Linked DNA regions of Homo sapiens. The protein of the gene in region 2 interacts with the protein of the main gene of each other region in a pairwise test. Each region holds a gene or a part of one and is shown on either strand. Other genes may lie near its edges. The genes, in order: KIR2DL3, CLN6, EBAG9 and SLC22A23.

What was found.
Region 1: the proteins of CLN6 (region 2) and KIR2DL3 interact in binary tests that used the Homo sapiens proteins (3 or more experiments, as listed by UniProt).
Region 3: the proteins of CLN6 (region 2) and EBAG9 interact in binary tests that used the Homo sapiens proteins (3 or more experiments, as listed by UniProt).
Region 4: the proteins of CLN6 (region 2) and SLC22A23 interact in binary tests that used the Homo sapiens proteins (3 or more experiments, as listed by UniProt).

What each region holds. Positions count from the first base shown.
Region 1 is NC_000019.10:54,741,500-54,748,524, reverse strand, and holds part of KIR2DL3 (killer cell immunoglobulin-like receptor 2DL3 precursor), read right to left. Parts: intron 6,546-7,025; coding exon 6,246-6,545; intron 4,731-6,245; coding exon 4,437-4,730; intron 1,191-4,436; coding exon 1,140-1,190; intron 1-1,139. UniProt on the Homo sapiens protein: Receptor on natural killer (NK) cells for HLA-C alleles (HLA-Cw1, HLA-Cw3 and HLA-Cw7). Inhibits the activity of NK cells thus preventing cell lysis.
Region 2 is NC_000015.10:68,226,729-68,233,984, forward strand, and holds the start of CLN6 (ceroid-lipofuscinosis neuronal protein 6), read right to left. Parts: upstream 3,001-7,256; 5' UTR 2,857-3,000; coding exon 2,774-2,856; intron 1-2,773.
Region 3 is NC_000008.11:109,557,149-109,564,173, reverse strand, and holds part of EBAG9 (receptor-binding cancer antigen expressed on SiSo cells), read right to left. Parts: intron 3,337-7,025; coding exon 3,245-3,336; intron 1-3,244. UniProt on the Homo sapiens protein: May participate in suppression of cell proliferation and induces apoptotic cell death through activation of interleukin-1-beta converting enzyme (ICE)-like proteases.
Region 4 is NC_000006.12:3,454,046-3,461,562, forward strand, and holds the start of SLC22A23 (solute carrier family 22 member 23), read right to left. Parts: upstream 3,006-7,517; 5' UTR 2,515-3,005; coding exon 1,861-2,514; exon of another isoform or gene 1,658-1,860; intron 1-1,657.

The DNA.
Region 1 (7,025 bases), on a different chromosome or scaffold from region 2:
AATATCAGTGTCCCAAGGGCAGAAGCCAAATGCATCTTGTTCACCGTTTGTGGAAGGCAGGAGAATGCTGTCCCACCCCAAAATGTCCCTGTCCTAGCCTCCATAGCTTGTGAATATGTTATTTTACATGGAAAGGAGGAATGAAGATTGTAGATGGAATTGCGGTTGCTAATCAGCTGAACTTAAAACAAGGGTATCCTGGATGATTTCCAGGAGATTATGAGGGATTTTCATCTTGGTGAACCCAATAGAATCCCCAAGTTTTCAAAAGATAAGGAAGAAGGGAGAGCAGCATTCAGAGAAAGAGGTGTGGTAAGGAAGAAGGCACTGAGTGATGCCATGTGAGATGTGACCAGTCTTTGTGGGCTTTGAGGAAGGAGGAAGGGGAACAGGAGCCAAGGAACTGGGAGCCTTTAGAAGCTGGGATAAGTGAGAAGCAGATTCTTGCCTGGAATCCTCAGAGGGAAGGCAGCCTTGCTGTCACCTTGATTTTAGCCCAGTAAGATGCACTTCCTACTTTGAGCTACAGCACTGTAAGATAATTAAAAAACCGTTTTGTTTTCACCCACGAATCTTGTGGAAATTTGTTATGGCAACAATAGGAAAAGGTTCCGCACTGCACAGCCTGAGCATGGGGCCGTGGCTGAATGAGTCAGTGAGTCGAAGTGTGCGTGCATGAGCTCCGTTCTCTGTTACGGCAAGGCTGTTGCTCTGCTGAGTCAGCCAGGGTTGCTTCATGACCAACAGTAATTCATTCCTTGGCAAGTGGAACTTCTCTAAAACACCTCGCCCTCATCAGATGTTCCCTTCCCTTCCCTCTCTCAAGCCCCCAGGAATTTATCCTCCAGTTAGGAATGCAGGCAGAACAAACATTGCATTTTTCCTGAGAAGGATGTCAGATTGGCAATCATTCTTCTAGCTTGTAGGAGGTCTCAGCTCCATAAAATGAGAGATTAAGAGATTTCACTGAGCCCTAGGTTGGGCCCAGATCCCTTTCGCTGTTGGAGTATCTGGAGTTCGGAGATGGTAGAAGACAGGCGTACAATGTCAGAGCTGCGAGATGCTGAGTCAATGCCTGCATCGAAGGTTTCTACCTCCCCAGGTTTCCAAAAGCGGATATAAGAGGGTTCTGTACTCACCGGTTTCGGAGCTTGGTTCAGTGGGTGAAGGCCAACTATTTGAAGGGTTTCCTAGAACACGAGACAGGAGAGAGGTGAGGAAATGAGGGTGTCTGTCCTCTACTCAATGGAAATCTTTGAGGTTGGTTCATGGCCAACACTCTGTTATCTAATATTGGGCCCTGGGAGTCCTGGGATCCTTTTTTCCGTAATTTTTGTATGTGACGCCCACTGTCTTGAGACTTCAAGGTATAAAGAGAAAACAGGAGCATCACACTACCTGATCTCAAAATATGTTACAGAGCTGTAGTAAGCAAAACAGCATCACATTGGCATAAAGAAAGGCACGTAGAACAATGGAGCAGAATGAAGAACACAGATATAATCCATGCATTTACCTCCAATGTTTTTTTCTTTTTTCTTTTGAGATGGAGTCTCGCTCTGTCACCCAGGCTGGAGTGCAGAGGTGCAATCTCGGTTCACTGCCACCACAGCCTCCTGGGTTCAATCAATTCTCTGGCCTCAAACTCCTGAGTAGTGGTATTACAGGTGCTGACCACCATGCTCAGCTAATTTTTATATTTTTAGTGGAGACAATGTTTCATCACGTCGGCCAGACTAATCTTGAACTCCTGGCCTCAGGTGATCCACCCGCCTTGGGCTCCCAAAGTGCTGAAATTGCAGGTGTCAGCCACCATGCCCAGCCCATCCAATGGACTTTGACAAAGGTGCCAAGAACTCACAATCAGGAAAGGACAGTCTTTTCAATAAACAGTGCAGGGAAACCTGGACATCTACATGCAGAGGAATGAAACTGCACCTCTACCTGTCACTATACACAAAACTCAAATGAAAATGGATTAAAGATGTGAGTCTAAGGCCTGAACCTATGAAACACGTAGAAGAAAATATTGGGGAAATGCTCCAGGACATTTGTCTGAAGGAAGACATTTTGTTTTAAACCTTCAAAACACAAGTAATCGAAGCAAAAATAGACCATTGGGATTACCTCAAACTAAGCAACTTCTGCACCGCTAAAAATAAACCAACAAAGTGAAGAGACAACCCACAGATTGGGAGCAAATATGTGCAAACTATGCATCTGAGATGGGATTAATAACTAGAAATATAAGAAGCTCAAACAACTCAATAAAACAAACGATTTAATTGAAAAAGGAGCAAAACACATGAAATTTCCCCACATACTAAAAAGTGCTCAGTTTCACTCATCATCAGAGAAACACAAATTAAAATCAAAGTGAGTTTTCATCTCACCCCATTAAAATGGATTTTAGGCCGGGCGTGGTGGCTCACGTCTGTCATCCTAGACCTTTGAGAGCCTGAGGTGGGTGAACCTCATAAGGTCGGGAGTTTGAGACCAGTCTGACCCACATGAAGAAACACTGTCTCTACTAAAAATACAAAATTTAGTTGGGCGTGGTGGCGTGTGCCTGTAATTCCAGCTACTCGGGAGGCTGAGGCAGGAGAATCGCTTGAACCTGGGAGGTGGAGGTTGTGGTGAGCCGAGATCGCACCACTGCACTCCAGCCTGGGTGACAAGAGCGAAACTCCATCTCAAAATAAAATGAAATAAAATAAAATGGCTTTTAGCTGCAAGACAGGCAAAGGAAATCCTGCCAAAGTGGTAGAGAAAGGAGAACCCTAATACCCTGTTGGTAGGAGTGTAAATTAGTACAGCCTTTACGGAGAAAAGTGTGGAAGTCCTTTAAAGAACTAAAAAGAGGTTGGGTGAGGTGGATCATGCCTGTAATCCCGGCACTTTGGGAGACCGAGGCGGGCACCTCAGTTGAGGTCATGAGTTTGAGAGCAGCCCAGCCAACATGGGGAAACCCCATCTATACTAAAAAAAACAAAAAGTAGCCAGGCATGGTGGCGTGCACCTGTAATCCCAGCTACTAGGGAGGCTGAGGCAGGAAAATCATTTGAACCCAGGAGGCGGAGGTTGCAATGAGCCAAGATGACTTCACTTGTACTCCAGCCTGGGCACAGAGGGAAACTGTCTCAAAAACAAAAACAAAACAACAAACGAATAACTAAAAAGAGAACTTTCATAGTATCCAGCAATTTCACTACTGGGTTTATATCCAAAGGAAAGTAAATCAATATATCGAAGTGATATCTGCACTCGTATGATTGGTGCAGCACTGTTCACAGTAGCCAAGATGTGGAGTCAACCTACCTGCCCATCAGTGGATGAATGGATAGAGAGAATGTAGTACATACGCACAGTGGAGACTACTCATCCATAGAAAGAATAACATCCTGATATTTGCAGCCACATGGATGGAACTGGAAGTCATTACAAAGATTCCCATTTCTCACCCATATACAGAGCTAAAAGGTGGATCTCATGAAGGTAGAGAGTAGAATGGTGGCTTCCAGAGGCCAGGAATAAAAGGGTGGAGGGTAAAAAAAAAAAAAAAAAAAAAAATATATATATATATATATATATATATATATATATGTTTATATATGTGTGTGTGTGTGTATATATATATATATATATATATATATAAATGTATTTATGACCACTAGACTTTACACTTAAAAATGGTAAATGTGGCTGGGCGTGGTGGCTCATGCCTGTAATCCCAGCACTTTGGGAGGCAGATGCGGGTGGATCACGTGGTCAGGAGTTGGAGACCAGCTCGACCAACATGGTGAAACCCCCTCTCTACTAAAAATACAAAAAGTAGCCTGGCGTGGTGGTGCGCGCCTGTAGCACCAGCTACTCAGGTGGCTGAAGCAGGAGAATCACTTGAACCCAGGAGGCGGAAGTTGCAGTGAGCTGAGATTGTGCCACTGCACTCCAGCATAGGGGACAGAGCTAGACTCTGCCTCAAAAAAAAAAAAAATGTTAAAGGTGGTAAGCTATATAGGTATATTTATCCTCAATAAATATTTCTTCAAACAAAAGTAAAGGGTGTAGGGGTTGCTGGTGATGACATCCCTGTGTGGGTGAGAGGCCAGGATGGGCTTCTGGGAAATGGGTAATGTTGAGGGGCTGAGGGAACCTCTGATCTTCCCAAACTGAGCCCAGTCTCTCTCCTCTGGGTCTCTCCTGACCGTTTTCTCCATCTGCCTGTGTGCCTGGAGCCCTGGCCGCGGGCCTTCATGCAGGCCGTGTAGGAGGGTTTGGAGGTGCCCTGTCTGCCATCCTGTGCCCTGATCCCTCCCTCACACCCAAGCTTCGTCTTCTCTCTGCATCTGTCCATGCTTCTCTCCATCATCAGCAGGAAGCTCCTCAGCTAAGGCTCTAGGATCATAGGACATGAGACAGATATGGGGTTTCCTCACCTGTGACAGAAACAAGCAGTGGGTCACTCGAGTTTGACCACTCGTATGGAGAGTCACGGAAAGAGCCGAAGCATCTGTAGGTTCCTCCGTGGGTGGCAGGGCCCAGAGGAAAGTCGGCCTGGAATGTTCCGTTGACCTTGGGCCCTGCAGAGAACCTACGTTCATGGGCCTCCCCCTCCCTGGATAGATGGTACATGTCATAGGAGCTCCGGGAGCTGCAGGACAAGGTCACGCTCTCTCCTGCCAGAACCGTGGGGCCCGGCTGGGCTGAGAGAGAAGGTTTCTCATATAGACCTGGAGGAGAAGAGGCATTTTCCTTACGGAGGATCTTCCTTGTCACAGCTCCCTTCACCTGAGCTGAGAACTCACTCCCCTGCTCTATGACCTAATGCTCTCTCTCTCTCTCTCTCTCACCCTCCACCCCATCTCTCTTCATGTCTATTTCCTTCTTCCACCTTCTCTGTCTCTCTAGGTCTCTGACCTCGCTTCCCCACCTCTAGATATGTTTTCCCTTTTTGGATTCTTTTATTCTCTCTGACTCTCCTTGGATTGGTTGACTTGATGTTACTTTTTTAAATTCTAAGTTTCTCACGTTGTGTCCTGTTCATAACTTTCTGCATATTTCTATCTATTATCTGTCGATCTATCTATTTATCTATTCGGTGCCTATCTACAAATTCTCTACCTGTCATCTATATCTATATATCATCTATGTATCTATCACTTGTCTATCTATCCATCAATCATCTGTTATTTATATGTATGTATCATCTCTCTCTCTATGATTTCTGTCTGCCTCTCTATCTGTACGTATTATCTGTCTTCATCATCATCATCTCTATGTATTATCTATTAATGAATCAATCAATCATCATCTATGTATCTTTAACCTATTATCTATCATCTACCTATTTATCATCTATCTATATCTATCCATCTATCATCTGTCTTGCTCTGCCTCTCGGTCTCTCTAGTTCTCTTTGGAATCTCTGCAATTCATCCCCACATCTCCATGTTTCTATGTCCTTGTGCCTCTCTCTCAGGACTCTAATTTTAGTGCTTTTCTCTGCTCCCTGCCATCATTCTCACCACTCCTCTGCCCTCTTTTCTCTCTCTTTATGTGTCTGTGAGTCTCTCAATCTCCTTCCTCTGGCTCATTCTCTGTGTGTTTATGTCTTTGCTTTTTGGTGTTCCTGATTTTTCTCTGTGCCTCTCAGTGATCCTTTCATATGTGGGGTTATTTGGAATGTGAGCCACAGAATCCAGTCTGGAGACCACAAGTTCACACAGCATACAGGGGTTGGTGTTCTGGGGCCATGATATCCTGGGACGATTACTCTCCATTACATGGAAGGCAGAGGTGTCAGAATAAACATGGCCTGTAGGTGCCACAAGGCCTGAGGCCACAGGGCCCAACTCAGGTCATAAATATGGGTGTCCTTGGGTTCTCCTGGTAGAGAACACTTTGTGGAGGTAAAACAGAAATGAAACTTCTAACCTGTGCCAGGTCTGTGAGCAAAGTCAGCATGGAGGGACACCTCTCTCTGGGACATGTCTGTCTGTCTGTCTCTTTTAACTCTTTCTGTCTTTTCTAACTCCCTGTATGGCCCCTGTGTCTGTCCTCTGTTATGACACCTGGTCTGTACTTGTGTCTCCTGTTTCTCTGTCTCTGTTGGTACAAACCTCAGCAAGTCAGTCTCTCTCCATAAGAATACCAAGCTCATCTTCCTTACAACTACCTGGGGGTTCCAAGTCGTGGATCATTCACTCTGCATCCCAATGACAATGAGAATGTCCGGACACTCTCACCTGTGATGACGATGTCCAGAGGGTCACTGGGAGCTGACAACTGATAGGGGGAGTGAGTAACAGAACCGTAGCATCTGTAGGTCCCTGCAAGGTCTTGCATCATGGGACCGATGGAGAAGTTGGCCTTGGAGACCCCATCATGGTGCTCTCCAATGAGGTGCAAAGTGTCCTTAAACTTCCCTTCTCTGTGCAGAAGGAAGTGCTGAAACCTGACATCTGACCAACATTGCAGGATGACTGTCTCTTCTGATTTCACCAGGGGACCTGGGTGGGCCAGGAGGGAAGGTTTTCTGTGGACTCCTAGGAAGAGAGGTTGTGAGTTTAGAAGGTGTCTCTCTTTATCATCCCATCCATGGCACCTAGAATGAGTGAGGCTTCCCCTTGCTGGTGTCTGTCTCTCTCCTTCCTCTCTGTGTCTTCATGTTCTTTTCTGTGCCCTTAACTCCTGGTGCAGGTCCTTCCATCTGTCTCCCTCCCTCTTCTCTGTCCCTCTGTCTCTAGTAGCCTCTGATTCCCTTCCCACTGGGCTGAGCCTCATCTCTTGGGGTGTTGTATCTATTTCACACTAATGTATTTCCTGCTGTTTATGTGGGGGTGAAAGAGGAACCAGGATAGGCTGCACATCCAGGCTCTTATCAGCCTGGTTCAATCTCTTTTGGATGAATTGCAATCCTTGGCAGAAGGTATGAACTGATGAATAAGGCAGGCACCAGTGTCCACACACCCTGTTCCTGGTGGGGACTGGGAGCCACTCTTGCCATGCCTGTGCCTTCTCCATGG
Region 2 (7,256 bases):
TGCTGGGATTACAGGCATGAGCCACCACACCTGGCCAGTAGATCGTATCTCAAGGGTCGTGGTTTAATTAATACATGCAAAAACTTAAGAGCAGGGCCTGATCCATAAAAAGTGCTAGTGTTTTTTATTGTTATAAACATATTATTTGGAAATAGGAATTTGACTCTGGAAAAAAGAGCTAAAAGAAGCTAGGGTGATTGTCTCTGGTGCTAGGGAAGAGTGGGACAGGGATTACTACTTTTTAAAACTTGAAGCCTTTGCTATTTGATTTATCACGGGCACTAATTATAATACTTTCTTTTCTTTTCTTTTTTTACTTTTTTTTTTTTTTGAGACAGTCTCACTGTCATCCAGGCTGGAGTGCAGTGGCGCCATCTCGGCTCACTACAACCTCCGCCTCCCAGGCTCAAGGGATCCTGGTGCCTCAGCCTCCTGAGTAGCTGGGATTACAGGCATGGGCCATCACACCTGGATAATTTTTGTATTTTTTAGTAGAGACGGGGATTCTCCATGTTGGCCAGGCTGGTCTCGAACTCCTGGACTCAAGTGATCCACCCACCTTGGCCTCCCAAAGTGCTGGGATTACAGGCGTGAGCCATGGCACCCGGCCTAATTGTAACACTTTCATTATAATACAAAAACTGGCAACAAAGCAGGTGGACGTTGGAATGGGTTACCTTAAGAGGTAGTGAGCAAAGCACGGATGCAGCAGAGGAAATCCAAGCATCCTAGGAACTGGACAGGATGATTCTGCCTACTCTCTTGAGCAGCAATGATACTGGGAATGGGCTGAAGCCACATTGTGGGGGGCAGAGACACCCTGGGAGACAGAGAGCTCCCACCCTCACACCACCCCCCTGGGAATACCCTGGCTGGTGGGGAGCTCACACAGGGGAAGAGGGACATGACTCCTTAGCAGCCAAAGTGGAGTCGTAAGAGCAGAGCCCGTAAGTCAGAAACCCTGGGTTTAGGCCCTGGTTCTTGCCAGCAAATGATGTAACCTCTTTGGGCCTCCATTTCCCCATCTGTACATTGGAAGTGACATCTGGCAGCTCATTGTCAAGACTGAGTAAGATGCTAGACATGGGAGCCCCACACAGGAGATAAAGTGGTGACCCTATCTGAGACCCACAGGCTGTTCCCATTGGGCTGTCACAGTTCAGGGCAGTCAGTGACCCCCAACTTGGCAAGGATTCGGAACAGAGACATCCCGCAGGCAGAAGAGGCTGCCTGGAAGAGGGGAGCTGGTAAATGGGTTGGGTCACAGCAGAGATGAAACCACTGGACACGGCGTGGGGCAGACAGCCCGGGGACTCAGCCAGTCAGGCTCCTCAGCCCATCTAAGCCTATTTCCTCATCAGTAAAATAATACTTAACTCACAGGCCGAGGGAGACAGGTGAGCTACAGTATGCGGTCTATGGCCAGTACATTGTTTCTAAGTGAAAACGGACACAGTCCGCAGCTGCTCAGCCCGCATGTCCGCAGCAGCAGAAACGAGCCATCCCTCACCTCAGCCCAAGCGCTCAGACTTCTCCCTTCATCCAGGTCGTACCAAAAACTTCCTAACAAGGACTTTGCGCATGCTAGTGCTCAGAAACTTCTCACGACTCCCCAGTGCCTATGGGATAAAGACTGTGTCCTTAACCTGTCACCTAGGACAGGAACTAGGGTGAGACAAGCAAGGCCTCCAAGGCCCAACATTTGAGGCGGCACTCACGGTCACGGCAGTGCGCCTACCCCTAAGTTTTGCAATCTAGGTCCTCAACTCGAGTCCTAGACTTGCTGCAATTAAAGGCCCTTCACAATCAGTCTGCATCCTCCTGTCACTTTCTTTTACAGCCGGAAAGCTCCAGCACCACTAAACTCCTTGCCCTTCCCCACTGTTTCCCTGGATGGAACAGCCTGTCTTCCCTGGGTCCCCTACCAAGTCCTCTGAGACTCAGCTCAAGTGCCACTTCCTCCATGAAGCCCTCCAAGATGACCGCTCACTCCCACTTGGGCTCTGTCTCTCCTGATCCCTACAGGACCGTAAGCCTCTCCCACCTTCACCCTGCCTACCCCCTTACTGCCTGGCACAGCGCTGGGCATACCACAGGCGCTTAAAGAATGCCTGCTGAATGCAGTGAATGTTTCTGGTCAGTAAAACGGGACGAAGGTAGAATGGAGCTCTGCTCGCCCAACGAGATAAACCAAAAACTGAGAAGGGCTCCTCATTCATTCTCTGGACGGCAGCTTCCGCCCTTCCCCGCTGTCTCTTCCATTACATTCGCACATTCTTGGGTGCCCCAGGTCAAGCAGACAGCCTCCTGATAAATGACAGAATCAAGTCCTACTCAGGGCTGGAGGGACCCCGAGAACGCGGAGGTGGCGCCCGGAACTTGCGGATAAGTTGGGGGTCCGAGTGACGAGGTGTGTGTACCCACCGCCCTGGGGAGCTCTCCCAGCGCAGCGGCTGTCCCGGCGCCAGCCCGGGTCGCTGGAACGCGGGAAGGGAGGAAAACCCCAAACTTCGGGCGGGCGCTCCTCCCACCCGAGCAACGGCGAAGCGGGGAGGCCGAGCCCCGCTGGGCCCCAGGCTCCCCAGACAGAGAAGGAAACGCGGGGGCACCGCCGCCACGGTAGCGCGCCTCCAAGCCCCCCGCGCTCCGCTCCGCCCCGGCCAGCGCCGCACACGAGGTTCCCGCCCGGCAGCCCTAGGAGCGTCACGTGGCGGGTCCCGAGGCCCCAGCGCACAGGCGCCTAGCCCGCCCTCTCACCCCGGCGCGCGCCCACCTGGCCTGCAGGAAGGAGGCGCCCAGCTGCGCGCCTGGGCCGCCCGTCGCTCCCAGGTGCTGCCGCCTCCGCGTCGCCTCCATGGCTGCCCCGCAGGCCCCTCGGCCCTGCCTTTCCGAGGAAGAGACCGGTTCAGCTCGGCTGCCCCGGCGGAGGCCGCCGCAAATTCCCAGCGCGGGGCGGTTCGGGGCGGGCCGGCGAGAGCGCGCGGCCCTCGGGAGGAACAGGCGGGGCTGCGGACCCGGGGCGGGGCGGAGCGGAGCGGAGCGGAGCGGAGGGAGGCGGGGCGGAGGGAGACGGGGCGGGCTCCGCTAGGGGAGGGCCGGGCGCTGCGAGTGTGGCGTCCTCGCGGGGCGGGGGCTGCTGGCCTGTCCGGGCTGCGCGCGTGACCACCAGCGGGCTGGGATGTGTTAGGGTCCCTTGCCTGCCTGGGTACGGGAATCTCTGTCTAGGGTGACTGAGGCCTGGGTGTTGGGCTGGGGCGGGGTAGCGACCTGGAGATAGACTAAGCTGATTTAAATGCTCCCCGGGGCAGAGGGTTCTGTGGGATTTCCCTTGTTCTTACGGGTGGAGGAGAGGAGGCAGGACTGGAGACCTGCACGTGTAGCACCCGCGTGGTGCAGCACGTGGGTTGCAGATGTTCTAGTGAGGGGCTGGCGGTGACAGTGGGAAGGAGCGAGTTGGTGACATCTAGAGTCGTGTGAGAGGTATGGTGACTGGGACTCTGGATGTGGGGGGTGAGGGGAGAAGAGTTCAGGCAGTGGCCGGATTCTGCCCCTGGGTGGATAGTGGAGGCACCCCCCGGGAAGTGGGCTAGAGCAGATTTCGTGTAAATAAAGATTCATCTTTGAACGCATTAAGCTTGAGGTGGGTCAGGAAGGCTGTTGGACCGGTGGTCTGAAGCTGAGGCGAGACCTGGGAACCCAGTGGACAGGCTCGTGAGTCACCGGAGCATACAAGACAGACAGAACCTAAGGGGACAGCATCCTCAAGTGAAAAACAGAACCAAAGGTCAAACCTGAGAACAGCCTGCAGGGCAGATTGCCAGGACTTCATTAGTGGTACCACTTTGAACTAGCTGTGATGCGGGCAAATGGCTCAACCCCTCACAGCTTCAGTTTACTCATCTGTAACAAGAAGATGCCTATTGCATCTACTACATTGGAGTTGTGATGACTATATGAAACTCTTAGCAGAGAGCCCAGCACTGGTGGACTAAGTTATTTACAATAGCCCGTCTCGAGACCTGAGGTTTCCCTCCACAGAAAGGTTACCTTCCACACCACTGTCAATGTCACAAACTCTCTCCTCCCCACGGTCACTGTCAGCAGCCCAGGCCGCTAACTAGAACAACTGCAACCAACTCCCATTCTCCCCACCACCCCCGTGCTACACCAGGCGCACACGACATGTGCAGGTCTCCAGTCCTGTCTCCTCTCACCCAGCCCTCAAGCCGCTGCAGAAGGGATGTGCCTCTTGGAAGGGATGTGCCTCAGATGCAAATGCAATGTGCCATTCCCCTGCCCAGTATCCTTGGTCTGCTTCCCAGACCATGAGGGGTCTGAGCTATGCCTATTTCCATTCTATTTTCTTTCCTGTCTTTCTTCTTGGGAGATGTTTATTGGATTTATTTCTTTCCCCTTTGGTCAGAACCTGCATGTCCTTTCTTGGCTGTGGGAGGCTAGGACTGCCTGCCTGGGAGTCATTTTCCATCAGCCCCATCCTGGGCTCTAGCAGCCCACAGGCCACACCTCAATCCCCCCCCTCCGCCCCTGGTCCCCTGAAGAACACATTTGCTTTAAAGCTTTCCTTGTTTCATTTGATCCACACACACCAGGTCGTAAGGAGAACAGGTGATTGTCTCTGTTTTGTAGCAGAGAAAAACCTAGGCCCTGAGCTGAAGTACTGTGCCCAAGGGTCAGCCAAGGACAGCACTCAGACGGGGCCCCAGATTTAATTCTGGTGAATCTGATCTACACATCGATCTCGGTATACACCAGAGAAGAAGGATTGAGGCTTCCCGCTCTGACCCCAATTTCTTATCCTCTGCAGGCTTTGCAAGCCTGCTGGGCTCCAGAGGGAGGGGCATGCAGTGCCCATGATGTCATCATCGATTTAATAACACTCAGAGGTGGGCTTCCAGCCATCAGAGGATGAGGCCGTGTGGAGGGAGCCTCTCTAGCTCATTTAATCCTCCAATCTCTTAAATACAAACACATCTGCCTTTTTTCTGGAGTCCGCTGCTACCCCTTGAGGGGAGGGGAGTCCAACCTGGCAGGGGGCTGGGCCTTTCTGAATGAACAAGATGAGAATTCTCCCTGTCCGGTGGGATTATCAGCCCCCTCTCTTTCCCATCCCACCAGGACACTTTAAAAACACCATCTTCATTAGCTCTTTAAATTGCATGGAAATTTGGGGGAGGAGGATAGAGTAAAGCTGAGGGGTACACATTTGCAGGATCTTGTTTGTGATTATCTGAGAACATGGGCCCTGCACATCAGAAGGGAGTCTAGTCTCAGCTCTCTGAGCTGCAATTTCAGTGGCCAGCATCAAGAAATCTTTCAGCTGAGAAGGTCCTTTGGTATTATGCATCTTGGTGGTTTTGACTTTTCTTTTAGTAGAGGTTCCCACTACTTTTCAATTATAGCTGTATCCGATATTTTTTTTTTTTTTTGAGACGGAGTCTTGCTCTGTCGCCCAGGCTGGAGTGCAATGGCACGATCTCGGCTTGCTGCAACCTCTGCCTCCCTGGTTCAAGTGATTCTCCTGCCTCACCCTCCCAAGTAGCTGGGACTACAGGCATGCACCACCACGCCTGGCTAATTTTTTATATTTTTAGTAGAGACGGGGTTTCACCATGTTAGCCAGGCTGGTCTTGATCTACTGACCTTGTGATCTGCCCGCCTTAGTCTCTCAAAGTGCTGGGATTGCAGGCGTGAGCCACTGCACCAGGCCTGTATCAGATACTTTTAAATGTATCGCCTAAGATCCGTTAGACACACCAGTCTTCCAGCTCCTTGCCACTTGTTTTGTCCAGCTGCTGTGACAACTGACTTCACCCAGGCAGAAGTCAACTGCACCTCCTCTCCCCTTGGCCCCACACCCTTGGCCTCAGAAGTGCAGGAGTGTTGGACACTCCATGGAGTGAACTTTGACCAGCAAGAGACAGGGATTAGCAAATAAATTTTTCTCTCTTCCTCTTTCTGGACAGACTGGCCTGAGTTCCGAGTTCACACAGCCACTTTAAAGAAGGTCCTGGGCCATGCGCAGTGGCTCACACCTGTAATCCCAGCACGTTGGGAGGCCAAGGTGGGTGGACCACGTGAGGTCAGGAGTTCAAGACCAGCCTGACCAACATGGTGAAACCCTGTCTCTACTAAAAATACAAAAACGAACTGGGTGTCGTGGCATGTGCCTGTAATCCCAGCTACTTGGGAGGCTGAGGCAGGAGAAATTGCATGAACCCAGGAGGCAGAGGTTGCAGTGAGCCGAGATCACGCCACTGCACTCTAGTCTGGGCGACAGAGCAAGGCTCAGTCTCAAAATAAATAAATAAATAATAAAGAAGGTCCTGTAAGGTCTAGCATCCTTCCAGACGGAGTGGTGGCCAGCTCCGCAGTGCACTCTCTTGTGTGCCCTCCCTTCTCCTCTGTCTCACTCCCCCTTGTCCTCACTTCCCCTTCCCAGCCACCACACTCCCCAATACAGTGTTAGCATACATGCTGCCCTGCTCTGCTTCTTTGGAAACCTGGGCTAAGACAAAGATCTTTCCAGCATGCTCAATGTATGAAACACCTACGGGGGGGTGGGGGGGGTGGTGCCCTGAGTGAAGAGAAGCAGGGTCCCAGGTGCCATCTCTTCTCCCCTTATGGTTACAAGGCCGTGGCCAAGTCACCTCCAAAGGGCTCCCTGGAAAGCCTTTGATCTTGCCTAATTTCATCATTCTGCAGCTGCGGAAAATGAAGCCTAAAGCCACACAGCGAGTTAGAAGCCAAGCCAGGCCAGAATCCAGTCTCCACTCCTAATCCAGTACCCTTTCTATCCAGTCTCTTAAGAGCTTTTGAAAATTTCTCTTTCTTCAAAACATCTTCCCACACTGCCCTGCCACCAGAAGGCTTTGAAGGCCCCTGCTAGACTGCAGCTACCATCTGAGAGACATGACACACAGAATCCTGGATCCAGAGGCTGGGACTCCAGAAGGCAGACAGACGAAGTGGGACCAGGAAAACTCAGTTACTTTGGAGAGAGGCAGCCAGGAGGGGCCTGACTAGGGGATCTCTAAGTGTGGGCAACAAGACTGTGCACAGTGAGAAGGCTGCACAAGGACAGACAGCAAGGGACTGGGGCACTGGGGGAAGATGGAGACTGTCTTTCTGTGTCAACTGGTATTGCCTGCAGGACACTCCCCATCTGGCTGAAGAAGCTGGGAGGGTGACCAGAAGTCACACTGTGGGGAGAGAGAAGGTCCCCAGGTTGTGTTTAA
Region 3 (7,025 bases), on a different chromosome or scaffold from region 2:
AAGTCATAGGATTAAGTACAGGGATAAGAACTCACATCTTCTGACACTTCTTATTTAGATTATCTCCATTTTGTAAAACAATACTTCCATTGAACCACATCTTTTTCTGGGGATACCATTCAGAAAAGCTTGATATTGAGCTTGATAATCTCCTGTTATTATAGTAGTTACAAACAGCCAGTTTTTAAAGTGCATGATGAACACAGCTGAACAGAACACACGCTCCAAAAAGAAAATGGAAACTTAAGATACACCTTCCACCAAGTAAATTTCAGGATTAACATGTGACTAACTCTACCAAAGAGAAGAGTGGTGGGTATTTAATCAAATACTGCATGTTCTCACTTATAAGTGGGCGCTAAATGATGAGAACACATGAACACATAGAGGAGAACAATGCATACTGGGGCCTACCGGAAAGGCTGAGGTTAGACGGAGGGAGAGGATCAGGAAAAATAACTAATGGATACTAGGTTTAATACCTGGCTGATGAAATATCTGTACGACAAACCCCCTTGACACATGTTTACCTGTGTAACAAACCTGCACATCCTGCACATGTCCCCCTGAACTTAAGTTTAAAAAAAAAAAAAAAAGAGTGGTAGGTATTTACTAATCATACTTTGTGAAATACATACCTGTTCCTTACTCTTTCCGTAACTCCACTGACCCAGACTCACTCTCTCTATCTTTACTGATTGGTTAATGTAGGGAGTGGAGGTAGGAGTGGGATGATGAAACAGGAGAGAGCAGAGTAAACATACATTGGTCCTGGATCTGAAGGGTTAGGGTGTGAGAAAATCATTCAAGTATGCAACGTTGAGGAAGGAAGCTACAGGTCACAATTGGGCATGGAATAGGCAACATTAGGTTATATGCAGAAAAATCCAAAGTGGATTATCTATGTCTGGGGGAGCTCAATATTAACTACAGTGAGTGAAATGTATGTACAGTTCTCAGTCATAAACAGGAGTAGGCAGAGTTATGGATGACCAAAATTCAAGAAAGTAAAGAAACTATTTTTGGCAACATTTTGACTTTTGCTATCAATTTCTGAAGAATAGTTTTAAAAAATCTGTTTTTCATCACTCTGCTGATGTTCAATAAAAACTAATAATCTGAACTAAAAATGTCAAACCAGAAGAAAAAAGGGAGGTAGAGAAAAAATTATAAAGGGCTGGCTAGGTTATAAACAAGTAAGATAACGAAGTTTTGACCTGGTTACTAGCTGAAATAATATAAGGGCTGAGCATCCCAAATACAAAAATCCGAAATCTGAAATGCTCCAAAATCTGAAACTTTCTGAGGGCCTACCTGATGCTCAAAGGAAATTCTCATTGGAGCATTTCAGATTTTAGATTTTCATATTTGGGATGATGAACTAGCAGCAGAACACAAATATTCTAAACTCTCAAAAATTTCAAAATCTGAAACACTTCTGGTCCCAAGCATTTTGGAAAGGGATACCCAATCTGTATCAAAAACTAAAGTATAAAAGAGACAACTTACGAGATAGCTGCAGACAAAAATACATTTTACCTATCCAGATTCATGCTGGGAATTATTAAAGTACCAGAATCTTCATTCTTAGCAATACTGATCACAGTACTGGCATTATTTATAGTGGCAACAGGAAAAAAGCTCAGAGTTAGACAATACGGAATGTGGATACACTTTTAAAATGCTCAATGTCTATTCAGGGGCAGTAACAATGTACTGACACCTCCATTTCTCTTTGGCTCTACCTATGTACTTGCGGCATGAAGCATGTCTATTACGGATTAACAATCTCACTCTCCCAAGCTGTCCTTAAAGGGTAAAACATTAAGTTTTTAAGTACATTTTTTCATTTGTTTTGCTTAGGGGTTAAGAGGCTAGAATGAAAAAGAAAAGGTTTTTGTACAATATTAAGATACTTGTGAACTCATGGCTTGAACTCTACAGTGAGATTACTGTATTTAAAAAGGACAGACCCCTTCCTTTGTCTTTGTGGTTAATGGCACTAATAATTACTAGAATCCCCAAAATGTCTTAAAATACTCAGACATCTGTATCTATTATTTGTTTTTTAAAATAACACAGAATTTTAAAGAGATGATTTATCTTTTTTGATGATCCATGCAATATCCTAAGTGTTATAGTTCACAATTTAAAAAATATTCCCTTTATAAAAGATAAGCTATACTGATTAAATAAGAACTAAATTTTAAAAACTCTCACAATTTTACTGACTGAATTTTGAAATGTGACGTCCCCTAACCTGCAAAAAAAAAAAAAAAAAAAGGGCTTGATATATTTCAAAGGAAAAAAACAAAAACTTCAAACAAAATTCCCAGTTATTTAGCTGCACCCTCTGCTGGTTGTTCACAGTAACTGTAATTTATTGACAAAGCCAAGAAAGGAAAATACAAAAATGAAATCAGTTTTTTTGTTGAGTCAGATAAAGAATAATTTGTCTGCTATTCCTATGGTAAAAACAATCTCAATTTTAAAATAAAAAAATTTATATTGCTGTATCTTACTACACAATTTAAAAAATGTATGAATTCTTTAGATGCATTTAAATATCTGACTTTTAAAAAGCAGTAATCAGTCACTAGCTCTCCCTTAAGATAAATTTTCTCTTTACTCTTTGACCTAATGTAGCAGTACTAAGAAATATGTTTGCTGCTCACACACAAAAAAGAACAACCAATAAAAATGAACTTTAAAACTTCCAGAATAGTATTTTTTTGCAGAATGGGTAGTTCATCTAACACATAGGGCTTTCATGGACATCATTTAAGATATATGTACAAATGTAGAGTGTCACATAAGTTATTTTCACTCAAATGAGCAGTACTGGGCACTATGCTAGATCATGAGGAAATGGAAATAAAGTTGTAACTTCTGACCTAGAGGAATATCAAGCTTGTAATATGGTATGTATATGCATATAACCTTATATATATATATATAAAACATATATATAAAACCTTTTATATACATGTATATATAACACTCCATTTGCCATTAATAAAGTTATTTTGTTCCTATAGAGCTTAAAATTCTTGGTTTCTGTGAGGTTTTAATCATATAAAATAGTATCTGCAGTCTGAAATACAAAAAAAAAAGTCCTTATTATCTAAGGATCAAATGAAGAAAAATATAATATTTGGCAAAATAGGCTCCCTTGACTTGAAACACAGCAGGGAAGAAATCTAGTTCTTCTACTCAGGTTGCAATATAAATGCCACTCAAATACCTCAGAACTTCTTCTGCTTGCCAGGCTGCATCTTCTTCTTCTTCCCATGCATTGGTATTTTCCTGCCAGGTATCTAAGTCACCTAATTCAGACTACAATGAAAAGTAAAACAAAATTAAGAGAGTAAAAGCCATCCTTTCTCCACATAGCCGTTAAAAAGAGTATCTTTTAACACATAACTCAGAACCTGTCATTCTCCTATGTCTTCTCAGCTTCCTTACCCTGTCCTATACAAGGCACAGATGATTTTGCTTTTGGCTTGCCTAGAACTGATGTATGACTTTCAGTGTTCAACAGTCCTAGGCAAGGCCAGCTTTCTTCTTTATGTTTCATGGGATACTCTCTTAAATTCTCTTCTTTGCTGTACTTTATTTTGGAAGGAACAAGAACAGAACATGTCTTTTGTTTCTTTCTCTCCTCAGTAAGATGAGGGAGCTGGGGATAGAGTGACAAGAAACTGACTGATCCCAGACTGAATTAGAAATCCTTGACTGGACTAATCTGTGCTGAGAAGAACTGCGAGCTGAAGTTCAAAAACTAGCACAGTCATTCTTCATTTAAGCATATGTAACTTACTGGAGATTTTTTATTGGCACTTACTGTCTCAATCCTAGGCAAAAATGACAAATCATGCAAAATTTATCTTTAATGAAATACTTCTAGGTCATGCTTCCTTTTCCCAGTCTTTCTTACCTGGTATCATCTACTGGTCCCTACCTCTATTTCCCAAGCCAGACCTCTAAAAGTTCACTGTTTTCTTTCAATAACCAATGAAAATGGTCATGCTGGACTGTTTAGGTAGGTGTGGAAGTGACTGTGTGTAAAATAACTGGTACCAATCTGTGAACACATTTATTTAATATCATATTGTTTTAAATACTTACCCCTAAAAATGAAATAGAATGTTTTGAGTTTTCTTCTCCTGAGAATATATGTAATACCATACTCTGTTAAAAATTCTTAAAATATTTCTAATTATTTAATATACATTTCTGAAAGGAGGATTTTTAAAGCTACTGAAACAAAGTGCAAATGACAGCCTTGAAAAGTACCAAGTTATCCTCTTGACCGCAGTAGGTAGAAATCCTGCCTTTTCTTCTCCCTTTTTTTTTTTAGGAATCAGCGTTTCACTTTGTTGCCCAGGCTGGAGTGCATGGTGTGATCATGGTTCACTGCAGCTTCAAACTCCCGGGCTCAAGGGATCCTCCCACCTCGGCTGCCCTAGTAGCTGGGACTATAGGCACATGCCACCACACCTGGCTGATTGTTTTTTACATTTTTTTAGAGATGAGGTCTAGCTATGTTGCTCAGGTTGGTCTTGAACTCCTGAACTCAAGTGATCCTCCTGCCTCAATTTCCCAAATTGCTGGGATTACAAGTGTGAGCCACTGCACTCGGCTGGCTTTCTTTTCTATCTTTACTAATTTGACAAGATTTAAAATTGTATCTTGTTATTTTACTTTGTTTTGTTTGAGACAAGGTCTCACTCTGTCACCTAGGCTGGAGTGTAGTGGTGTGATCACAGCTCACGGCAGCCTCGACCTCTTGGGTTCAAGCAATCCTCTTACCCCAGTCCCTCCCAAGTAGCGAGGACTACAGGCACGCACCACCACACCCAGCTAACTTTTTAATTTTTGTAGAGGGGGGATTTCGCCATGTTGCCTAGGCTGGTCTCGAATTCCTGAGCTCAAGTGACCTGCCCGCCTTGGCCTCCCAAAGTGCTGAGATTACAGGCATGTAACACCTCACTGGGCCTACTTTGAGCACTAATAAGATCAAGCTTTTCTTCAAATTAGGTTATGTCTATTTCTTATTTGTAAATTTCCCATTCATATTATCTATTCTTCCACTAAAGTATTTGACTGTTAGAGTACATAAAATATTTAGATTTTTTTTAAAAAGTAAAACTATAGAGACCATTAAAAAGGGTGGTATCTGATCCTTTAGTAGAGATGGCCTTAGTAAAAAGGAAAAGGGGGAAACCATTGATAGATTTGTCTACATAAAAACTAAATACACCTGCCCAACAAAAATATCCAAACCAATTAACAAACTAAAAAAGTATAAAACATGACATTTATCTTTGGTATAAAAGAACTCTCACAACAATACGAATGATGAATTCTAGAAAAGAATAAAATGTGTAGTTTAAAAGAAGAATCTAATTTGTAGAATGAATGGTAAGATATTTTTGGTATAGAAAACAAAGTCCAATAGGTTACCATCCTCTCCTATGCAATGCCCCTTTATTCTGTCTGCTTGGGAGGAAAATACGTGGAAATAGCAGTGGAGACATTCTCCATCTACCCTATTTACCCCTTCTCAACTCTGTAAGTAGTTGTATATTTAAAACTTTACAATGAGCTATGATAGTATTATAATTATATTTAGGTGGCAAATATTGCTAATTCAGTGGGTGGGATTAAAGCATTTCACCAATATGGATCAAACATTTATGAATAAAATTTAATTTTGAGATATATAAAATAAAAAACATTATAATGCTATGTTATTCAGCTAAGTATTTATGGTGTTATGTGTTCATAGCATCGTGTAACTGCATAGGAATTATCAAAGTTTGTAATTATATTGACGTGTGTGATCATTCATTTAATATCATGTCTCCCCTACTAGAATGCATTTTTCTGAGGCAAAGACCCTTTAATGCCACAGGGCCTGGCTTTAGTAAAAACAGTGTTTTTACTCAATGAATTAAAAACATACATATACATGGGTCCCCTGGGAAGAGGGACCTCAGAAGCAACTGTGCAGTTTAAACAAACAAATAAAATACATAGATTGACAGACAGATGTAATTTAAAAATATGTCCACAAATTCTTTGACATTCCTTCCTTCAAGAGGTGGAGGCTTGCATGTGGGCTGGATTTAGTGGCTTCTAATGAAATAACATGGAAGTGACAGTGTATCACTTATAAAACCACATCACAAAAAGGCATTGTGGTGTCACCCTCACCCATGAGCAAGTGCTCTCACCGTCTTATAACTTACTGGGAAAATCAGGAGTTACATCATAAAGAAATTCAAGCAGCTCCTTGGAGAGGTGCACAGCAAGGAACTGAGGCTTTGTGCAAACAAATAGCATTAATTTGTCAGGTGTAGAAGTGAGCTGTCTTTGAAATGAATCCTTCGACCACAATCAAGCCTTCAGATGATTGTAGCCCCAACCCAATGACTTGTCTGCAAACTCATGAGAAATTCTGAGTTAGAACCACCCAGTTTAGTCACCTGGATTCCCAATCCACAGAAACTGTGTTACATTAATATTTGTAATTATTTTAAGTCACTGAATTTGGAGTTGTTACACAACAACAGATAATATAATCAATCAATCAAAGCATGCTTAAAGCTTAGGTAGGGAGGGGTCTGGACATTTGTGCTTTTAAAAAACCTCCAAAGCTGATTCTGATATGCTCCCAAGGTTGAGAACCTCAGCTGTCTACTTGTTTCATAAATTTTTCCTTTAAAAAGTTTCATTTAAGTCAAACCGTTTAAAATTAAGTCATACTTTGAATGAAAATACACTCTATGAAGAAAACAATTCATAACTCACTTTAAAATAATCTACCATTAGGGTTAATCTCTCATTTTAATGGTAATCTCTCTGATGTTTATATTTTTAAATAACATTGTATCTCTATCTTTCATGTGTACAATGAGACCTTGATCTTAGTATCTAAGGTAATTTACAATCTCATAAAAGGTTAGGATTGGTAAAACTCCAGATTAACTTCTATCAAACTGCTAAACCTGTTTCAAAGT
Region 4 (7,517 bases), on a different chromosome or scaffold from region 2:
GATCTTTTTTGTCTGTGAAAATCAATATGTCCTTTCTAGGCTTTACTGTATAAGAAAATGTGTGTCTAATTATTGTTCCCAGGTTTCCCCTCTCAGTCTGGCCCAGTAACTGCAACGTGTCATCAAGCATCACCCAAAACATGCCACACACATGAGGGCTGTCTGTGACCCTCTCGAATGCTAATTTAGAAAAACTGCCCAGCTCTCCAATATGCCTCCATAGTCTGCTTTTAAGAACTATTTTTGTTCTCTCCTCCCACCGTGCATGGCTGAGTGTGAATAGCTGTTTCCTGGGTCCTCACTGCCAAGGTAATGGCACTCTATCCCATCTCATCACTTTCAAGTTCACCTCTACTTTGACCCCAGGACACAGCGCTCTTCACACATACTCACTTTGATCCATTATTCTCCCTCTGCTCTAGAAAGACACTTGAAATACTTAACAATGTTGCCAAATCCTCAGTCTGTCAGACATACACAGTGATTTAAATAGTCATTGTTCTTAATTTTTCTTTGCTGCTAAACCAACAAAGAAATATTGCCCTCCGTGAAGGGAAAACAGTCACAGAAACACCTTTAGAAAGCAGGGGGTAGGAGGTGGGTGGGATCAAGGTGAACCCAGCTAGAAGGACCTTCCCCATTACCTTGCAGGGCAGCAGGGGCAGCTCAGTCAGACAGTTCCCACAGGACAGAGCATTTCTGGCCAGGTTGGTACAAGATTAAAACAATGATTATGATGATGTAAGAGTTTATCTTACACATCCATGAGCTACAACTGTTAACCAATGCACACGGGGGGAGGAGGTTACATGCACATTGACTATTTAAAACTGTCCAATTTCATACATTTCGACAAAGCATTTAAAACTCTGCCAGAACAGCCCAGAATGGGTAGCGGGTGGGGTGGAGGAGAGTCTGTATTTACTTTAAAATGTGAATTAATTAGTTTAGACACAAGGAGCAAAACTACAAATGTCTTGATATCTCTTATATGTTAAGAATAAAATTACAGCTGTCTAGGGGCATTGAGTGTCCACCATTGCCCACTCTGTGTTTAGGCCTTCACACTTGTCTCACAACTCCCTTCTGCTACATTTCACACCACGCAATACCTCTGCAAGGGAGCTTTAGCTACAGGACTCAGAGGACAAGGTGCATGTTTCAGCTAAAGCACACCCCCGTTCTCAGTGCCTCAGCCCAAAGCAGCTGCTGTGTAAGAGCGGTGACGGCCGGGGAACACCCAAATGACATATTCTCCGCGTCCTTCCTATACTGTAGTGATGTTTACTGAAGTGCTGAGAAAACATGGGAGGAGACACTGGGGTAGCAAAGCCTAAAGTCAGATATCTTTGGGGAGGACTAAGCATCGGCTGCGGGTTGGGGATTTGCAGGAGTCTTTGCTTCTCTGGCTCTCCAGTTCTTTAGTAGGCTTTACCTGTGTCAAAATCAAGTGCGAGATGGAAGACTATTGCTTTGTGGGAGACCCAGGGACAACTAGCCGGGCAGAACAGGGCTGTGGTCCCGACTCCCCCAGCAGACCTTGAACGACGCCAGTCCGACTCCTCCAGAGGGGGCTGGTGACAGGTCAGCTGCCTCGCCCCGAGGGTGGGGGAAGGGCGCGCTTTCCATCCGCGTACTGGGACAGGAGTTTGGGTGCAAACTAGTAAAGGCTATGGTGCTCCCTTTACACCCAAGTAAAGGCATGTGGTTTGGGGGACGGAAGGAGATTAAGCCAATGCGGAATGCCCTACACACACTCTAGCACCACCACTTTGGGGACTTCGGTTCTCCCGCTGGCTCGGGCTTGGACCTCGGTCTGCAGGGAGAGGGTTGGAGGGACTGGGCGGCTGCGGCCCTTACCTTGCTGACCACGTTCTGGACGAGGCCGGCGCGGATGCCGTAGTCCCATGCGCGGCAGTCACAGTTGGAGGCGTTGTCCCCCTTGTCCGGAGGGGATGGCAGGGGTGGTGTGTCGCCTCCGTCCGCGCCGCTGCTGTTGCTCCGGTTGCCCGCAGCCTCCCAGGGGGCAGTGGCGAAGGGGGTGGTGGGGAGGCTGGTCCAGTTGCCCATGTCCCCGCCCCGGCCTGTGGTGGTGACCCCTGCCAGCTCGGTGCCTTTGCCGGCCCCGCGGCACCAGAAGTTGGGCTGGTCCAGGAGGAACGAGTCCGAGAACTGGCTGAAGCCGATGAACAGCGCCGGGATCCAGGTGAGCAGCACGAGGGTCTTCTGATAGCCCCCGCCCAGGCCCCCGAGGAAGGGCAGCACCGACCCGTCATAGTCCAGCAACAAGAGGCTCGGGGCCGCAGCCGCGGAGCAGCAGCTCGGGTGCGGGCCGCCTCCAGGATGCAGTGGGGGCAGCGGCTGGATCTCCGCGCCGCCGCCGGGGCCCGCGCGTCCCCCGAGGGGCGCCGAGGCCGCCGCGTCCCCGGGCGGCAGGGAGCCGTTCTCCTCGGCCGGGGCCGGCTGCCGCCCAGGCCCGCCGCCCGCCGCCTCGCGCCGCCGGTCTATGGCCATGGCCCGGGCCCGCGGCTCCCGCAGAGGCGCATAGAGCGCGGCGGAGGCTCCGCGGGCGCCCCGGGCACAGCGCGCCGGGCCAGGCGCCTGCAGCCGCTGCCGCCGAGGAGGGCCCGCGGCTCGAGAGAGAGCGCTCGGCGGCTCCGGGTGCGTCAGGCCGCCCCCATGTCACCCGCCGGACCCCGCGCCCCGGGCGCTGCGGCCCCGCTCGGGCGCCGGGCAGAGGCGGGCAGAGGCCGGCCGGGCCCTCAGCCGCCGCGGCTCATCAGTTCCGCGGCCCGGGCGCCGGCTGCCGAGCCCGCCGCTCTCCGCTGCTCCGCGCCGGACGCGGCAGGAGGAGGAGCCGGCGCCGCGCCCGGCCCGCGCCCTTGCCGGCGGTTCAGGGCCCTGCGGGCGGCGGTGCGGGCAAAGGCTGCTGCTCCCGGGGTGGCCGCGCTGTATTTCTCCGACTTCGGGCGCCTCCCGGAAGCCGCGAGCTCTGGACCCAGCCTGCCGAGCCGGCCGCGCTCTCCAGCTCCTGGAGCCGGCCCCACTCCTCCTCCTCCTCCTCCTCCTCCCCCTCCTCCCTGCCCCCCGGCCCGCCCCCTCTCCCCCCGCCGAGGTGGAGGTAACCGCGGCACCTGCTGCGCTCGGCTCCTGCTCGCGAGCGCCCCCTCCAGCCCGGACGCGCGGCCGCCGCCGCCCGGGATCCACGGGAGGGGGGCGGGGGAAACGGGACACCCCGGGCCCGCCTGGCTGGAGGATCCCCTGCCCGTTGCCCGTTTCGCGCCGGGCGGGGCGGGGGAGGAGGAGACGCGCGTAGCAGGGGTCGCCGGCCGGCGACGGGTCCCGGCAAAGTCGGCGTGCGCTGAGAACGTGTGGGCCGGGTCTTCTCTGAGGCTGGGCTCCCGCAGCCGCGCGGGCCCCCCACCCACTCCGCGCGCGCCAGGTCTCCGTGACCTCTGTCTCTTCAGAGGTGCCCGGCGGTCCCGCTGCCCGCGCCCCGCTCCCAGTCCCAAGCCCGAGGGTCTTCAGCCTTCGGGAACAACCCTCTGCGCTTTTTCCAGGAGCGAATAAGGTTGATTTTTGTGTCCGTGGAGCAGGGTCAAGGAGGCGCCTTTGCCAATTTCAGGTCGCCAGTCCCCCGCAGTGTCTGGCCACCTGCGACCCGCCGCACCCACTCCCAAATCGCCATTTCTTCCCCCACTCCTAAGTGCATGCGATGTAAGCACGATGCTGGGATATATCTCCAACACAAGTTATAATACACACAGTATAAACGTGATGGCATTCCCCACCCCCTCCCTAAGATCTTGTATTCACGTTTGGAACGCCGTGTGCACAGGCGCACACATCTATACTCTCACACAAGAAGACAAACCTCTCCCTCCTCTCCTGCTCCAGCGCCAACCTTGCCCAGCCAGCGCTGTATAAATAACACCAGCCCTGCGGCAAACGGCTACATTAGCATATTTCCTCCTGCACCCAGCGCACGCACCAAAGAGAATTATCCGGCACCTTTCAACCCAGCGTCCCCACATTTTGGAGGCATTTCATATTCTGAGAAGTTTATTAATGGAAGTCTTAAATGGAGCAATCCATTTCTAGTCTTATTTGGGGCAAAAAAAAAAAAAATGTTTAGCTTTCCAAAAGGATATATTCTAAGCTCCATATACTGAATGTATTCTTTTGCATTTTCATTATTTGCTCAGCTAACCGCTGCACAATTTAGTGGAATACATTTTTAACCTGCAGTTCAGTGTTAAGGGCAACATGTGTTTACTGCATAAAATGCTGGCACATACGTACCAGAGAACTATTTCTGAAGGCTGCCGGGGGGCGGGTCTTGGGGGACAGGGGAGGTTGTGGACCTTCCTGCGTGGCCGAGAAGGGGTGATTAGATAACAATGGGCGGAAGGGGCCCTAAGGGCTGCAAAAGACACCAGACCGCTGAGAAATGGGTCTGGAAACCACATATATAAAGAGCTGGGGGCTTGGGGCGGGGGGGGACACGATAGTGCACGTTGTGTACGTGGTAATTTTTCAACTTCACATTATTTATTAGCTTAACTTTTCTTTTCCTTCCCTCTCCTCCCCTCATTTGAAGAGCTAATACATGCAAAGTTCTGACCTCCATGCCTGGAACAGAGTAAGTGCGCAATGAATGTTAGACATGTATTATTACCAGTGCTCCTCTTGCCATTACATACAATCCACATTTCTTTTTGAATTGAAATATAACTTTACGGATTTTATTTATTTTCCTTTCAGTGGCTGATTTTCCAGAAGAGGTCCACTTTGTGTCTGGCTCTGCCTCCCTTCCCCCACAGTCACAAGGACCCATTTGTTTTCTTGTAACTGATCACAAAAGGAGCATTGCCATTGACCTTAATGGCCCTTCCAATCAGAATAACTATCATAGCCAGCGTTTCAGAGTTGGCTTTCAAATTCACACTCTCACTCAGTCCTCACATTCAGCGCCCCAAGAAGTGGGCTTTCAAAGAGAAACAGCAAGGATCAGGTGACTGACTACCAGATCAAAGAGTTGGTCCCCAGCTGAGCCAAATATCTGGTTTTGAACCCAGATTTTCTGACTGGACATTACCGGATTTCTCCATTTCATCATACAGGGGCAACTATAGGGAAGAGTTTACAAAGATGTTTGTTAATGTGCATTTTTACGTGGGAGAAGCCCTGGCCCTAGGAAAAGAGTTTCATTGTGAAGATGTTATTAGTCTTTGTTCGCAAAAGGTGGTAAAAATCCTCAAATGGTACATTCTTAGAATTTAGGGACACACTGGAAAATGGTATCCTCTAAAACTGAAGCTAAAAGGAGGCAACATAAAATGTTTGAAATTAACTAGCTGCAGCACTGACCCAGGCATTGTAATTAAGCTGTTGATTAGATTAGAGGTTTCCCTAAATTCCTCCTGGATTGATATTTCCACCAAATCTAGTCAAGAAGATTAAAGTGTAACTACTTTAAAATAAAGTGGCCTTCAATTTATTAAAACATACCACAAGTGATCTCATAACGTGAGCAAAAGGAGTAAAGAGGAAGAATTTGACACTCTGACAGCCTCAGTGGGTGAGGTTTGAGATCCATGGACCAGGATAGGAAAGCCAGACACCTGTTAAAAAATTACTGTTTTTAATTTTCTGAATGAGCATTATCATCAGCTGCTATTTTTCTTGTTTGCTTAGTTAGATTTACGTTCTGCCTCTAGAATGTAAGCACCTTCGGGGATAGGTGCCTTGTGCTCAGCTGTATGCTTGGTGGTTAAAACAGTGCCTGGTACATGCAAGGCACTCAATACATCTTTGTCAAATAAATGAGTGTATCAAGTTATTAATCACTTGATGATACTGTCTATTCAAATCATCAAACTGTTTACTTTGTTTCTTAAATCATCAAGCAACCTTTTTGTGTTTGTTCATCTCTCAAAGATGGTGCTCAGATCAGCCAACATGAGACTTGAAATGAATTTGACAATTATATGTCTTGTTGTAAGGCATTGTGGTTACTGGATTAGCTCCCAATATTATCTTCTCTTGGGCAGTATTGGCTTGCAGATGGTGGCTTATAGGCCAAATGCAGCTCACAGACCATAGGCAATGTTTTCAGGAAAATAATTGCTAACATTTCAAAATTGGGAGATTGAATACTTAGAAAAAAATGTGTTTTGGGCTTCTCTGAACATCATAGCAGAAGCCATTGTCCTTTTGATGCCCCATGTTTGCAGGACCGTGCTTTCTTGGACTGCAGTAAATGAGCAGGCACTCTCCAGCTTGCCCTCATCCCTGCCTGACACATGCCCCTCATGCATGACATTTGGCCCCCAAAAGTAGCTGTGTTTGTGACCCTAAATTTATGTGAGTATCCTGAACCCAGTGATCTTAATAAAGAAGCTGAGTCATTCCCTTTTCCTTTGAAAGTATGTTAAAGAATCTACCAGTTTATAGTTTTCTAAAAATTGAGAAAATAAGGAAAGGAAATGAAAGTCATAACCTAATCACCAATACATTTGAACAGTTTTATTTCCTTGGAGATAACAGGAGAAAAAATGTTTTAGCTTACCTCTAAAATTGATGGAAACCTAATTTTAAATCCTCTATAATTCTGTAAAAGTTAATTCTAAGGAATTCAAGTCAGGGTTAATTAACTTTAAATGTACGCTGCAAGTCATACCAAATGTATTTCACGTTGGTTTCTCTGATTATTCATGGTCTTTATACTTGAATTATAGATAGATATATCACATTTTAGAATATCCTGTGTCATTTTTTTTTTAAACTGCAGCTTGATTTCTTCCTTTCAAATAACTATTTGAAAATTAGGTTACCTTGATTTTGGGAGGGTGGGAGAAAGTGATTGAAATTATTTCCAACTCTAGTTGTGTATACTTGAATATTATTTATATCATCCTTTGCCTTTTGGAATATCAAGTCTGACTCTTTAACAAGAAATTTGACATTTACAAAACCTATCATAAATGAAAATGAAAAAGCTACTTTGGTTAAGTGACAGAAGTAATAAAAATGTCACATAATCTATCCTAAGGAAAGTTACAGGTAGTATCTTGAGAAAAACTACCTACTCATCTAGTACAAGACAAATTCATCAAAAGGCCAAGTGAAAACAGAAAAAGTGAAGATAAGACTTCTATGCAAAAAGCTACTCCATTGTAAATGTGATGGCTAGGGCCCAGTTACTTTCAAAGTTTGGTCAAAATTTAATTTTGAAGTCTTTTATTGAATTAAAAAAATTAGTGAAGCAAATCGATCTAAAATTTGATGTTGGCTTTTGTTTGATGAAAATCATAGATGTCATCTTTGTCTTACTGTACTTAAGAATGTTCTTTGGGCCAGGCACGGTGGCTCACGCCTGTAATCCCAGCACTTTGGGAGGCCGAGGGGATCACGAGGTCAGGAGATCAAGACCATCCTGGCCAACATGGTGAAACCCCATCTCTACTAAAAATACAAAAATTAGCTAGGCATGGTGGTGCGCACCTATTGTCCCA